Linked DNA regions of Homo sapiens: region 1 is linked to region 2. Evidence: fine-mapped expression QTL. Tissue or cell type: lung. Region 2 holds a variant in brackets; the other region holds the start of a gene. All regions are shown on one strand. Distances are between the middles of the regions.

The links. PIP is the estimated chance that this variant, and not a neighbour inherited with it, causes the effect.
Region 1: it holds the start of FKBP9, and the variant in region 2 is fine-mapped to the expression of FKBP9 in lung (TOPMed, PIP above 0.99).

What each region holds. Positions count from the first base shown.
Region 1 is chr7:32,953,440-32,961,547 of GRCh38, forward strand. It overlaps FKBP9 (FKBP prolyl isomerase 9), which reads left to right and starts at 4,001. Exons shown (of 10, transcript NM_007270.5): 1 at 4,001-4,355. The coding sequence starts at 4,135. RefSeq lists enhancers at 2,848-3,798, 3,648-3,697 and a silencer at 3,788-4,257.
Region 2 is chr7:33,016,933-33,025,040 of GRCh38, forward strand. NT5C3A (5'-nucleotidase, cytosolic IIIA) reads right to left here. Exons shown (of 9, transcript NM_001002010.5): 3 at 7,107-7,176; 4 at 5,121-5,167; 5 at 4,340-4,425; 6 at 2,703-2,792; 7 at 507-669. Among named protein-coding and RNA genes, the nearest start is that of NT5C3A, 42 kb to the right of the region's middle. The variant T/C (reference allele first, on the strand shown) is at 3,723.

The DNA of each region.
Region 1 (8,108 bases), 63 kb before region 2:
CAGAGTCTCACTCTGTTGCCCAGGCTGGAGTGCAGTGGTGTGATCTGGGCTCACTGCAACCTCCGTCCCTGGGGTTCAAGTGATTCTCCTGCCTCAGCCTCCCGAGTAGCTGGGATTACAGATGCCTGCCACCACGCCCAGCTAATTTTTGTATTTTTAGTAGAGACGGGGTTTCACCATCTTGGCCAGGCTGGTCTTGAACTCCTGACCTCATGATCCACCCGCCTCAGCCTCTCAAAGTGCTGGGATTACAGGCGTGAGCCACCATGCCTGGCCGTAAGTTGTTTTTTTTTTTTTTTTTTTTTTTTTTTTGAGATGGAGTCTTGCTCTGTCGCCAGGCTGGAGTGCAGTGGTGCGATCTCAACTCACTGCAAGCTCCCCTTCCCGGGTTCACGCCATTCTCCTGCCTCAGCCTCCTGAGTAGCTGGGACTACAGGCGCCCGCTACCACGCCCGGCTAATTTTTGTATTTTTAGTAGAGATGGGGTTTCACCGTGTTAGCCAGGATGGTCTCGATCTCCTGTCCTCGCGATCCGCCCGCCTCGGCCTCCCAAAGTGTTGGGATTACAGGCGTGAGCCACAGCGCCTGGCCAAGTATTTTTTTAATTTATCATTTGTCTTTAAAAAATTTGTGACATTTTTTAATAGCAAGATTTTTTTTTTCTTTTTTGAGACAGAGTCGTGGTATGTTGCCCAGGCTGGACTTGAACTTCTGGGCTCAAGAGATCCTCCCACCTCAGGCTCTCAAGTAGTTAGGACTACAGGCTCCTAGATCCTGCCACCACGAGCAGACATTCATTTTTATTTTATTTTATATATATTTTTAGACAGGCTCTCACTCTGTCACCTAGGCTGGAGTGCAGTGGTGTGATCACAATTCATTGCAGCCTCCATCTTCTAGGTTGAAGATGATCTTCCACCTCAGCCTCCGAAGTAGCTGAACGGGGACTACAGGTGCAGGCCGCCCTGCTCTACCTTTTTTTTTTTTTTTTTTTTTTTTTTTTGAGACAAAGTCTCTCTCTGTCACCCAGGCCAATTGTGCAGTGGTGAAATCATGGCTCACTGCAGCCTCAACATCCAGGGCTCAAGCGATCCTCCAACATCAGCTTCCCAAATAGCTGGGACTACAGGCACACACCACCACATCTGGCTAATTTTTGTTTGGTTTTTGTTTTTCTTTTTGAGACAGGGTATCACTCAGTTGCCCAGGCTGGAGTTTATTTTTTCTGTAAAGTAGTGATTACACCTATGACCTTATACAGAGTTGTCATGAAGATTGGACTTCTTGGCATCTAGTTCAAAAGATCAAGTTTCAAATCCCAAGTCTTTACCAATTAATATGTATTGTATGTTTAGCGTCTGAGCCTAGAAACTAATTCAGCACCAAGATATTTCCCCAAATTGCCGTAAGAGGTCAGTAGGCAAGATAAGTATCATCTGTTTTACAGTCAAGGGTGGAAGTAAGAAGTTACCTGACTTGCCTGAAGCCACGGAGACATAAGTGAAGCAAAGACTGGACCAAAGTATATGTGTAGTGAATGAACTGAATGTCTGAATTCATGCCAATAAAATGTATAACAATTTTTATTATCAATGATTATATACTTCAAAATCAAGGTATTGTTTGACAACACAAAGATGACATGCAAAAGTACTTTTTGGTGGTCAGTGCCATTAATAGACTTAATAGACTACAATCAGAAAGTTTTTTCTTTTTTTTTTTTTTTTTTTTTTGAGATAGAGTTTTGCTCTGTCACCCAGGCTGGAGTGCAATTGTGCGATCTTGGCTCAGTGCAACCTCTGCCTCTGGGGTTCAAGCGATTCTCCTGCCTCAGCCACCGGAGTAGCTGGGATTATAGGCATGCAACACCACACCTAGCTAATTTTTGTACTTTTAGTAGAGACGGGGTTTCACCAGGTTGCCCAGGCTGGTCTCAAACTCCTGAGATCAAGCAATCTGCCCCCCTTGGCCTCCCAAAGTGCTGGGATTACAGGGGTGAGTAATTTTTGTATTTTTTCGTAGAGGTGGGGTTTTGCCATGTTGCCCAGGCTGGTCTCAAACTCCTGGGCTCAAGTGATACTCCTGCCTCGGCCTTCTAAAGTGCCAGGATTACAGAAGTGAGCCACCAGGCCCTCTGTTTGTTTTCAAAATCAGAGGTAGATGTTGAATTTTATCTCATGCCGTTTTGAGTCTATGGCCACATGATCTTAGAGCTTTTTTTCCCTTCTTCTGTCCTATAATTTTATTAATAGGTGTTCTATTTCTAGAATAAGCTCTAAGATGAACAATGAACATTTTTCTTGTTATTCATGTAGTTTCTCATTCGATCCCTGAAACCTAAGATTATAGTAATCTTATAATGATTGTTTTATCTTCATCTTACAGAGAACACTGACATTTTGTTAATTTACAGAAGCTCACCTAGGTAGCCCATGTAATGGTATATTTTTCCTTTAACATACCGTTTTTTAAATTTTTTATTTATTTTTTTTTTGAGGCAGAGTCTCACTCTGTCGCCTGGGCTGGAGTGCAGTGGTGCAATTTAGTGGCACAATCTCGGCTCATTGCAACCTTCGACTCCCAGGTTCCAGCAATTTTTCTGCCTCAGCCTCCCAAGTAGCTGGGACTACAGGCCGTGCCACCACACCCTGCTAATTTTTGTATTTTTAGTAGAGCCAGGGTTTCACCATGTTGGACAGGCTGGTCTTGAACTCCTGACTTCAGGTGATCCAACCACCTCGGCCTCCCAAAGTGCTAGGGTTACAGGTGTGAGCCACTGCGCCTGGCCTAATATGCGGTTGAATCCGATTTTATTACGTTTTATTCAGTATTTTTGCATTTATATTTATAAATTAGATCGTGCCCTGTTTTTTCAGTTTTATTTTTCTTTTTTGTTGCTCTCTTTGCCAGGTTTTGGTATCAGAATTGTGTTTGCTTCCAAAACGAGTTGAGAAAGAGTTGGTGATTTGCTTTCATTATTCCAAAATTTTAATAAATTATAACACCCAATTCCAATTCCAAGTGCATCTGATTACTCTAATGGATTCCTGTGGCTTCTGGGTCTCTATGATGAAGTCCTCCCTGGCATAGGCTCGTATATGGGAGCTTGTAGGATGTCTGCAAGTATCAGCTCACAGTGCGGCCGCTGATGGCTTGGAGGACCCTCACGGTGCCTTAAAACTTTTGCCTAGACAAGTGTCACGGGAGCCTCTCGCAATACATGCCTCCCTTTTCTTTTTTTGGAGACAGTGTCTCGTACTGTCGCCAGGGCTGGTGTGCAGTGGCGCGATCTCGGCTCGCTGCAACCTCCGCCTCCCGGGTTCCAGCGATTCTCCTACCTCAGCCTCCCGAGTAGCTGGGACTACAGGCACGCGCCACCAAGCCTGGCTAATTTTTTTGTATTTTTAGTAGAGACGGGGTTTCATCATGTTGGCCAGGATGGTCTCCATCTCCTGACCTCGTGATCCGCCTGCCTTGGCCTCCCAAAGCGTTGGGATTACAGGCGTGAGCCACGGCGCCCGGCCTTCCTTTTCCTTTAAGCAGTATTAAAAAAAAAAAAAAAAAGTCCTGAAGGATGGTTTCGGTCTCTTTCAAGGTAGACCATACCCTTGTAACTAAGCTTAAAAAATTAAAATCTAATTTTCCCTCCCTCTCCAAAGCAGCAAGGGAAAATTGGATCCACGGCCACGTAGGAGCCCCTCACGGCACCAAACCCGGTGTCTCCAGGGACGGGCGGAGACCAGCGGGTGGGCTTGGGCAGTACGCGCTTTTCTCTTCCGACTTTGGGCCAAAGCCTTGTCCGGAGATCACAGTGTCTCGCTCGGGGACACGCCCTCTCTAGGCCCAGACTTGGTCCCCACTGGAGTTCCCAGCCCCCCTCCCCGCTGCGGCACGCACATTCCCAATGCCGGGCGGGGCAGGGCGCAGCAGGCCCGCCCTCGGCGCGCGGCCAGGCTGGGCTCCTCCCCTGGAGCTGCGGCCGGGAGGGCGGGCGGCCGGGGAGACGGGGTGGCGGCTGCAGCCCGGGTAGGGCCAGGAGACCCGGTCCACGTTTGCAAACGCAGCCGAACGCCCAGGCCGACCCGTGCCGCCCGAGCGCCGCGCTGCGTCCGCGCCACTCTTCTCGCCGCCCCGATGGCGTTCCGGGGCTGGAGGCCCCCGCCGCCACCGCTGCTCCTGCTGCTGCTCTGGGTGACCGGGCAGGCAGCGCCCGTGGCGGGCCTGGGCTCCGACGCGGAGCTGCAGATCGAGCGGCGCTTCGTGCCCGACGAGTGCCCGCGCACCGTGCGCAGCGGCGACTTCGTGCGCTACCACTACGTGGGGACGTTCCCCGACGGCCAGAAGTTCGACTCCAGGTACCGCGCCCTTGGCGCCCGGCGCGGCCTCAGCGGATGCGCGTCCCTCTCTCCGGACAGGCCTTTCCCTCCTGCCGGACCTCCCCTAGCTCCGCCCCGTGCAGCCGCGCTCCTCCCTTCTTCCGCTGCCCAGATCCTCCCGGACCCCAGACCCTCCGCCGCGGGTGAGCCTCCCGGCCCTCACGTGCCCTAGGCTGCCAGCCGGGGACTGGACCCTTGGAGGACCTTGAGCAGCGGGGTTGGGGCAGACCACGTCCTCCCTTTCCTCCCAGCGCATGGACACACGCAAAATCAGTGTAAAATAATCAGTGTAAGTGGAGGCCACGTTGCACAACTGGACCCCCAAGAGTGGATGTTCGTGCCTGCCTCTCTTCGCCCTTTCCTGTTCCTTCCCTCCGCTCCCTTGGGAATCTAGTCAGATGGTGCTTCTCACACAGAACAATGATGAAGAGGCTAGCAGCCCCAAACATACAATGAGCTGTTAACAATGTGTAGGTGTAGTTCTAAGTACTTTCCATATTGTAGTGAACTCATTTAATTGTACAGCAGTCTTGTGAGGTAGGTACTATCACTACCCTCATTTTATCAGTAAGGTAACAAGCAACTGCGGCTAAGAAACGTGTTTAAACAATGGAGTCAGATTGTTTAATCCAACTCCAGAGTCTGTGTGCGCAACTACCACTGCCCTTCCTTTCCTGCCATACAAAAACCTCTCTTGGGGCTGGGCGTGGTGGCTCACGCCTGTAGTCCCAGCACTTTGAGAGAACGAGGCGGGAGGATCGCTTGAGCCCAGGAGTTTGGGGCTGCTGTGAGCTATGATCGTGCCATTGCACTGCAGCCTGGGAGACAGAGAGAGATCCCATCACAAAACAAAACACAACACGACACCTCTCGTGGGCAGGAGGTAGTCCAGGACCGTCACTCTGCTTTATACCAGGCCCTATATCAAGCCCAGAACTCCTTCTCTCAGCTCTGCCTCAGGATCACAGCACTGCTCTCCCGTTTCCCTCCAGTTTAGGTTCGGGGTTAACAGGCCTCTCTTCGTCCAGCACCAGGCTACTCCTCGCCAAGGCTTTTGTTACAAACCCTGGTCTGTGCCAGCACTTCCCTTCGCGAACACTAGATCAGGCAGAGAGAGCTATTTGTTGAGCCCCTGCTATGTGCCCCAAGGCCTAGGGTCATTACGAATATTTTGTAGACTCTTGACTTTTTTGAAGTTCCAGACAATGAATATACAAAAGCTGTTCAGCATAGTATGTGGCACTAGCAAGCGCTTAGAAATGGTCATTCTTACTACCATTTTAGTTACTTTAAAAAAAAAAAACAACAGGCCGGGCGCGGTGGCTCACGCCTGTAATCCCAGCACTTTGGGAGGCCGAGGCGGGCGGATCACGAGGTCAGGAGATCGAGACCATCCTGGCTAACACGGTGAAACCCGGTCTCTACTAAAAATACAAAAAATTAGCCGGGCGAGGTGGCGGGCGCCTGTAATCCCAACTACGCGGGAGGTTGAGACAGGAGAATGGCGTGAACCTGGGAGGCGGAGCCTGCAGTGAGCCGAGACGTGCCACTGCACTCCAACCTGGGTGACAGGGAGACTCCGTCTCAAAAAACAAAACAAAACAAAAAACAAAAAACGAAACAAAAAAAACAGCTTTATTGAGATATAATGCCATACAATTTGCCCATTTGGTGTGTACAATTCAGTGTTTTTTAGTATATTCACAGAGTAGTGCAAACATCACAACTAGCTATTTCCAGAACATTTTCATCACCCCCAAAAAAGAAACGCTGGACCCATTATCAGTCACTCCCCAACCCCAGTTAGACTGCCCTCCAGTCCCTTTCAGCCACGAATCCACTTTATGTCTCTATGGATTTGCCTCTTCTGGACATTTTGTATAAATGGAATCATATAATTTGAGGTGCTTTGTTATTTATTTATAATTGGCTTCTTTCATGGTTCATTTACGGTGTAAGGTATATCAGTACTTCATTCCTTTTTGTGGCTGTATATGTAATATTCCATTGTGTCCATTCATCAGTTGATGGACATTTGGATTGCTTATACTTTTTGGCTATCATGAATGATGTTATGAACATTCATGTGCAAGGTTTTGTGTGGATGTACCTTTTCCTTTTTTTGGATATATACCTAGGAGTTGGAATTGCTGCGTCCTATGGCACCTATGTTATAAACGTTTTGAAGAATAGCCAACCTGTTTCCCCACAATGGCTGCACCATTTTACATTCCCACCAGCAGTGTATGAAGGTTCATAGTTCTCCACGGTCTCAACAACACTTGTACTTGTCTTTTTTTTTTTTTTTTTTTTTGAGATGGAATTTTGCTCTTGTCACCCAGGCTGGAGTGCAATGGTGCGATCACAGCTCACTGCAACCTCCCTGCCTCCCGGGTTCAAGCAATTCTCTTACCTCAGCCTCCTGAGTAGCTGGGATTACAGGTGCCTGCCACCACGCCTGGCTAATTTTTGTATTTTTAGTAGAGACGAGGTTTCACCATGTTGGCCAGGCTGGTCTTGAACTCCTGACCTCAGGTGATCTGCCCACCTCGGCCTCCCAAAGTGCTGGGATTACAGGCGGGAGCCACCACGCCTGGCCTGTGTCTTTGATTATAACCATTTAGTGGGTGTGAAATGATATCTCATTGTGGTTTCGATCTGCATTTCTCTAATGGCTAACGATGTTGAGCATCATATGCGTATTGACCATTTGTGTATCTTCTTTCATGTGCTTCTTTCATAGGGAAGAATTTCTTGCTTGAGTTGATGGTAATTAATTCCAGTAGAACAAGTTGTCCTACTATCTAGAACATCTCTAGGGCTGGCAGCCACTGTGAGGTAGTGTAGGGCAGTTGAAAGAGCATGGAGGATCTACCATCCATTCATCAAACGTTTTTCAGCGTCTATCCCTCAAGAGAGAGACTAGTCCTAGTCTAGTATGCTTCTTCCCCATCCCTACCACTTACAGCCTAGGCTATTACAACATGGTGTGATAAGTACAGTAAGACAGTAGCACACACTCTGTCTCTCATAGAGTTCACACATAGTTCTTACCATGTGCCTTCACATATGTTAACTCATTTAATCTTAGAATAATTTGTTTAACTTCTCAAGACAGTGAGGTAGGTACCTCATTACAAATGAATAAACTGAGGCTCAGAAAGTTCAAATGATTTGCCCAAGGAACATAAGTACTAAGTGGTTGAGTGGAGATTTGAACCCAGGTAGTTCATGGCCATAATCTATGGTCTGTAGTCCACCCATGTATATGACAGAAGAAAGGTAAGTAGCTATGAAAGCACAGAGAAGGTTTAACTATATATTTTTGTGTCTGTGTGTGGGGGAGGTTAGGATGGAATCCTGGTATGGCAGGGATAAGACCCAAGGATGATGAAAATTCACCTGGGAGGAGCTCAGGGGTGTGTCTGCAGACCCCAAGGTCCAGGCTTGTCTTTTGATAAATATTATTATGTGCCTACCACATACCTTTTTGGGTATACAGAGTTCTAGATGCTCTAGCACAGTAGTGTTTAAACTACATATACTTCTGAATCACGTAGAGAGCTTGTTATACAGTTTCCGATTCAGTAGCTCTGGGATAGGGCCTAGGAATTTGCTTTTCTGACAAGTTCCCAGCTGATGCTACTGGTCTGAGGACCACACTTTGAGAACCACTGCTCTAAAACAGGGGTACTGAAATGGGATATCAATTTACAAAAATAAATAAATAGT
Region 2 (8,108 bases):
AGCACTTTGGGAGGCCAAGGTGGGAGGATAACTTGTGGTCAGGAGTTCGAGACCAACCTGGCCAACATGGTGAAACCCTATCTCTACCAAAAATACAAAAATTAGCCGGGTGTGGTGGCAGACGCTTGTAATCCCAGCTACTCGAGAGGCTGAGGCAGAAGAATTGCTTGAACCCAGGAGACAGAGGTTACAATGTGCTGAGATTGTGCTACTGCACTCCAGCCTGGGCAACAGAGTGAGACTCCATCTCAAAAAAAAAAAAAAAAAAGAAGAAGTTTTACTACTTTTATTATTAGTCTATAGCTTGGGGAATGAAAGTTTAAGAAGGGCACATTGTTTTTAAAATATGGATATATTAACACTGAGAAGGATGGAGTCCCACAGTGGGCCTATCGGCTTGGCCTAATTTCTGGATATAGGATATATATTAAGTAACAATAAATAAATTTACATGATTAAAATATTTTCAGATTTTAAAATTATGAAGAACGATTTGATATTCTTACAGTTTCATCAAAATCCATAAAATTGGACACAACTTTGACATTGGGATGATAAACACCAGCTTGACGAATAACTTCCTCTAGTACATCGCCGATTCCAGCCGAAAATATGAACACGGGGATGCTATGTTGTTGGAGCTTATCAAAGAAATTCTCATATCCTTCTCTGTAAGATGGAGATAACAAACTGGTTATTAAAGAGCAAGATATAGTTCCTTTTTACTTAGAAGCTAAAAAAGTGAAATATTCCTAGTAATTCTATGGCTCACTCATATTCTCATTTCAATATACTGCCCAAGAGGGCTGTTATTGATATCTACAATACTACAAGTTTTTCAAACAACAGTTAACTCTTTACTTTCCCTTTAATCAATTCTAATACTACAAACTAGATGTCTTTAAGCTTTCACTGAATATGAATATAAACCTACAGTTCACAATTTATACCATTTAAAAAGAAATAGGCAGGCATAGCAGTGCATGCCTATAGTCCCAGCTATTTGGGAGGCTGAGGCTTGAGGATTGCTTGAGCCCAGGAGTTCTAGTCCACTCTGGGCAACATAGCGAGACCCTGTCTCTAAAATGAAATTTAAAAAGAGAAAACAATAGTTAAGCTACACCTTGAAAACCCCACTTAGGGGTTAAAACATGGATATATTAACACTGAGAAGGATGGAGTCCCATAGTGGGCCTATCAACTTGGCCTAACTTAATGGATATATATTGACCAACAACAAATACATTTACATGATTAAAATATTTTCAGATTTTAAAATTATGAAGAATGACTTGATATTCTTACAGTTTCATCAAAATCCATAAAATTGAAAAGAAAAGCAGAGTGGCAGGAACTTAGATGTATTCTCGACATCTGGCATGTGTCTTTACTAAGATCTTAAGCCCTCTTCCCTTTTTTACCCTTCCTGGGCCATAGGTTAAAGAATGCTAATGTTGCCTACTAAGGAATGAAACACTTACTAGCTGTCCTCACACTTTTTCTGACAATTTATTGCTTTCCTTTTTAGAAGTAATCACCTTAAAATATAACATCATCATAAAAAAGTAACATCATCATATTTGCCTAATGAGTTGAAAATTTTACGAGGTAATAAACAGTATTAAACAGGCTCTTGGGCCGGGCGCAGTGGCTCACGCCTGTAACCCCAGCACTTTGGGAGGCGGAGATGCGCAGATCACAAGGTCAGGAGATCGAGACCATCCTGGCTAACTCGGTGAAACCCCGTCTCTACTAAAAATACAAAAAATTAGCCGGGCGTGGTGGCGGGCGCCTGAAGTCCTGGCTAGTCAGGAGACTGAGGCAGGAGAATGGCGTGAACCTGGGAGGCGGAGCTTACACCACTGCACTCCAGCCTGGGTGACAGAGCGAGACTCCATCTCAAAAAAAAAAGAAAAAAAAAAGCTTCTTGTATCTTATAACTCATGCATACATATATAATTATGTACTAAAACATACTAATCTTTCCTAGGAATAGTTTTCAAAGAAGTTCGAGAATTTAAAAAGTAGGCTTATGTAAATTTAGACATAGTATACTGCCAGGCATGGTGGCTCACACATATAATCCCAGCACTTTGGGATCGCTTGAGCTCAAGAGTTCAAGACCAGTCTGGGCAACATGGTGAAATCCCATCTTTACAAAAATATACAAAAATTAGCCAGGCATGGTGGTGCATGACTGTAGTCCCAGCTACTTGAGAGGCTGAGGCAAGGGGATCGCTTGAGCCCAGGAGGCAGAGGTTGAACTGAGGAAGAGATTATGTCACTACACTCTAACCTGGGCAACAGAGAGAGACCCTGTCTTTAAAAAAAAAAAAAAGTATACTTAAATCCCTTTTAACTTGATTTATACATTCCTTTCATATGTCTTTCCTAAGTATTTTGCTAAAAAATTTTTAAATGGCCTTGGTTCAAAAATTTTAAGTCTTGACATTTTTAATCTGGAGAAACAAAATACAAATTAGAATTTAAATCTCATAAGGCTCTTACTACCTACACCAAGATCTAATACGTCATTCTAAATTCCTTATCTTACCACTATGTATTTTGTGATAGGTGGCATATTTTGGATATGGTTATATAAGGAATATTCAATCTTATTTTTAAAAAGTACAACTGACTACATAAATAGCAATAATTCAAGTCTGTGAACAATAACAGCAAAAAACATCCAAGAAACTTACTTGAGCATAACGTCAGATTCTGCCACAATTTCTTTAAGTTTAGCTTTTGGTAAAGCTTGCTGAACAAGCAAACCATGTGATTTAGTATACCTGGAGTTTATGACCAAAGGAAAAAAGACTATCAATTAAGACAAACTAAAATTATTATCTTTATTACAAAACATTCTTCCATGTGAGAAAATCTGTTCCTCATATTTGGATTTAAATTTTAGAGATTGAAGTTCATCACTAATGAATGTATACCTCATGTCTCAAAATGTGATATGCATGTTCTTACTGAGTTTCCCAGTCCTCCCAAACCCAGACTTAGCTTAAATATGTTAGTAAGGTAATGAAAGGAAACTAGCTATAAACCTTTCCTAATTCTACACATAAAAACTCAACCCAACCTATGGAAGCATAATCCTTTCTCTGATTGCAGTAAAATGAATTAGAGCAACCCCATTTTTAAAATTTGTTTGTAGTTTGAATTTTCTACATACTGAAGATGCTACTTAGTGAACAAGAGAGAAAATCTTTGTTATGGCAAGTGTCATATACAGATTAGCCTGCTTTATGTAGAAAACACCTATAATCATAGCATCTCAGTATAAAGGGCCCTTAGACTCTCTAACCCATTACAATTATGCAAACAGCCACTAAAAACAGAAAGAAAGAAACGAAAAGAAAAAAAAGCCTAACTCTTCATCTGATACCTAAAAATACCCCTATAATATTCCTAAGTCACCTTCTTCCCTGCCTGGGTCAGCTTCTAACATGTCAGTAAGCTCATTCTCCCAGGGAAGCTTATTCCATTGCCAGAAAACTCTTAATTGCTAGACAGGCTTTTCATTTCTCATGCTGAAATCAATCTTCTTATATCTTCCAAGTCTAGTTCCAGTTCTGCTGCTACCAGTTTGTAGAGTTAAGTCTAATATCTTTTCAACATTTAGTACCACAAATACAGATGAAGTATGCAACTGTTACGTAACGGGACAATAAAGACAAATCATTCCTGGTCTCCTAAGATTTTAAAACAAG[T/C]TGTTCCTTCTCAAATCAAAGCATTTTCTATTCCTTGAAATGTTCGTCAAGTGGGAAGGCTCAAATTCCTCTGATCATTCTGGTGGACTACTCTGACTCCTTTTAAGTTTGTCATGATCTATTTTTTTTTTTTTTGGTCACTATTGTCATGGTTTCTCTTAACAGCATTCTTCCAGAATCCGACACAGTGCTTTCAGTGTGATCTGCCTGGAACACTGCATTTTGATTAATGCAACCAAAGGTCGATTTTTGGGTAACCATATCACCTGCTGGCTCTGAGTTCAGACTCAGTTTAAATCCTCATACCTTTTCTTTACACATTAAGCCACGTTTTGTTCATATACTTAAAAAAAAATTCTTGTTTTTAATTTGAGACTTAAATGCAGGACTTTTAATTTATTCCTACTGGACTTCACCTTAAATAAACAAAACAAAAGGATTCCTAAACTGTTAGAGAGATTAGATAATTAGAGCTCATTTTGTTATTCAATGCTCTAACTTGCATAATTTATTAATCTGTTTGTTTGCAATACAGGTAAAAAATAAGCCATCAGTTGTAACTGCAGTGTTGTTTTATTATTTTTTTTTAATCCTCCTACTGCCTAATATACACTTACCATTCCACCATATAAGGGTACTTCTCTTCTACAGTAAGAACAGGATCAACTTCAATAGCGTAATATTTTTCCTTTAGTTGCAATAACTAGGAAGATATGAATAACTTAATCATGAAGATTACTTGAAAATAAATCTGCTTGGTTTTATAGAAAGCAAAACAATGTAAACAAGTATTTTCAACAAACTGCTTTAAAAGTTGAGCTAATGCATCAATTGAAAAAATATTTGTTGATCTTAGTTGACATGTAATCAAATATACCTGCAAAAAGCTACCTTTCTTTTGTAAAGTACTTTCAGATGAGTAAAAACCAACAATAAAATTATCAGTACAAAAAACACTTTAGTTTTCATATAAAGGTATTAAATTTGATTCACATTTCAAATTGCATTTTGTTAAGATATACACAGACACATACATACTCAAGCGAAGTACTGAAGCAACTTCCTCATCAACTTAAAGGAGCAAAACCTATAGAAAACTGAAGTACTTTTGTTTTAAATCTCCAGTTAACGTTACAACACCAGAATACTTTGGTAATCATTTAAGAGTTTTAAATATAAGTTTTGTTGTCAAGTTACTGTGAATTTTTATCTTTAAAATATGTTTTGAATGTGTAATTCATACAGCAAACCTACTATTTACTGAGTGCTTACTATGTGCCAGGTATGGCTGTAAGCACTTTACATCCATTCTTACTTCTGTGAATGCACCTGAAGAAATTCTCAGGCAAAAAGGGTAATGAAGTCTTTGAGTGACTATAGATTGTTGTTAGTGTTTACCTTTTTTCTACATTCATCTGTAACCAGCTTACAGTTGTCAATGATATCTAAAGATAGAAAGCAAAATAAGCATTAAAAGAAATACTCTGATTTATGCTACCACTACTATGAATAATTTGCTATAAAGTAATGGCAAAAAACTCAATTACTTTTGCACCAACCCAATACTTTTAAGTAATGCCAAGTCAACTAGCATGGTTATTATAACTTTTGGTGTCAGTGGTATAATTCACATGACATTGTTAAAGAAGCTAATGGCTTAAAATCTGAGATTCAGTGACTGCTCGCTTACATCACTGAGATAGACAATTCAATATCTTCAAATACTATGAACTGTGTATTGATCACTTCCATTTTCTACTTTGTAATTAAATATAAGAAACACATATGGGAAATACATTTTTTTCGTAATAAAAAGATAATAAATGCTTAACGTAAACATCTGGAAAATCCAGACCACTGTAAAGAAGAAAACAAAAATTGAATGGTAAAAGGTTTTAGCATTCAATAATAAGTAATGAACAATATTTTAGTATATTTCCTTTCAGTCTTAAGATTTCATGTATATCAATTAGATAAGAGATCATACCAAATCTGTAATTTTGAATTTTCTTTTTCATTTCACATTGTAGTCTGCATTTTTCCATGTAATTAAAATTTCTGGTATGTGAGCAGAAAATAATTTATATCATTTCTGCAGCATTAAACTTTTTAGGTTGCTTCCAAGCATCTGCTATTAGTAATAATTTTATGTTGAGCTTAGTCACCATTATTTTTGTGAATAAAGTTTTTTAAAAACTGCATTTGAGATTATTAGAAATTCTCCAAAGAGGACTTAATAGGGCAAAGGATATGAAGATTTTTAGTGTTTTTTTTTTTTTTCGAGACAGGGTCTTGTTTTGTCATCCAGGCTGGAGTGCAGTGGTGCGATTATGGCTCACTATAGACTTGCCCTCCCAGGCTCAAGGACCCTCTCAGCCTCCCAAATGAGTAGCTGGGACCACAGGCATGCCACAATGCCCAGCTAATTTTTTATTTTTTGTAAGAAAAGGTCTTATTATGTTGCTCAGGCTGGTCTCAAACTCCTGGGCTCAAGTGATTATTCCACCTCCACCTCCCGAAGTGCTGGGATTACAGGCGTGAGCCACTGTGCCTGGCGATTTTTAGCATTTTTTTAATACAAGTTATCAAAATAATTTTTCTTTTCCTTTTTTACTTTTTTTTGAGATGAAGTTTCACTCTGTTGCCCAGGCTGGAGCGCAGTTGTGCAATCTTGGCTCACTGCAAACTCCACGTCCCGGGTTCAAGTGATTCTCCTGCCTCAGCCTCCTGAGTAGCTGGGATTACAGGTGCCCGCCACCATGCCCAGCTAATTTTTGTATTTTTAGTAGAGACAGGGTTTCATCATTTTGGTCAGGCTGGTCTTGAACTCCTGACTGCAAATGATCTGCCCGCCTCAGCTTCCCAAAATGCCGAGATTACAGGCATGAGTGACCGCACCCAGCCCCAAAATAATTTTTCAATTTACACATGTACTAAAAGCAAATGAGAGAGTTCATTTCACCGTTTCCCTGTCAGGTTGAAGAGTGTTATTTTAAAAACTCACAGCCAAGTTGGAAAACAAAAAAGACATTAAAATTTGGTAAAATTCCTAGAAAACAAAGTATTTGATAAATGGTGTTTCTTCAGGTTAACCCAAAGTTTACAACCTATTTAAATATTTCTTGAATAATGAATAGACCATATTTGGCAAGAAATATTTCAGGAGTCTCTGATTCCCTTTGCTACCAAAACCATACATGAAAATAACCATTTATATAATATGGGAAAAAAAACCTCAAAAATATAATAAGAAAAAGCAGGTCTCCTCACTGTCAATGTCCAAGAAGAATTTTAAAAACCCAGTTATCTCACAGGTAATATAAAGAGGATCTTAAAATAATGATGACATGCTTTTGTGAATTTGTTTACAAATATCACACTTACTATGACATGTTGGGCATCTTTTCCCTTTATATGAAAATCTACTGAGTGTCATATCAAAGTCCGTTATTATCTGTAAGAAAAGAGTGAAATGCATTATTGTAAACATAGCCCACATGGCCAGAATTTCTCTGTGCTACCCAAACACATACTTCATGCTTTCCTAGATGCATAGGACTGTGCTCAAGTCTCTGGTCCACACTGTTAACTTATTCTCTTTACATTGAATTTTCTCATGCGGTTCCTTTATAAAGTCCTGGGAATAATCTTAACTACAAGGTGCTACCTTGAGTGCCCTAGTGTTTTCACCAAATAAATCTGATTCGTAATTCAGCCATAAAAAACAAAGAGATGCTGTCATCTGCAGCAACATGGGCGAGCCTGGAGGTCATTATCTTAAGTGAAATAAGACAGGCACAGAAAGACAAATATTATATGTTCTTACTCATATGTGAAAACTTAAAAAGTTGATCTCATGGAAACAGAGAGTAGAAAGACGGTTACCAGAGGCTGGGAAGGGTGGGAGGGTTGGTGAGATAAAGAACAGCTGGTTAATGGTTATGAAAATACTGTTAGAAGGAATAAGTTCTAGTGTTTACACAGTGGAATGACTATAGTAAACAGTATTTTATTGTATATTTCAAAACAGCTAGAAGAAAAGATTTAGAATGTTCCCAAAACAAAGAATAAATATTAGAAGTGGCAGATATCCTAATTACCCTGATTTGATTATTGCACATTTTATATACATTTGAAAATATCACATGTACCGCATATATATATACAGTTATTATGTATCGACTTTAAAAATTGAAAAAATCCAGCCAGGCACGGTGGCTCATGCCTGGAATCCCAGCACTTTGGGAGGCCGAGGTGGGGAGATCACTCGAGGTCAGGAGTTTGAGATCAGCCTGGCCAAGATGGTAAAACCTTGTCTCTACTAAAAATACAAAAATAGCCAGGTGTGGTGGCATGTGCCTGTAATCCCAGCTACTCAGGAAGCTG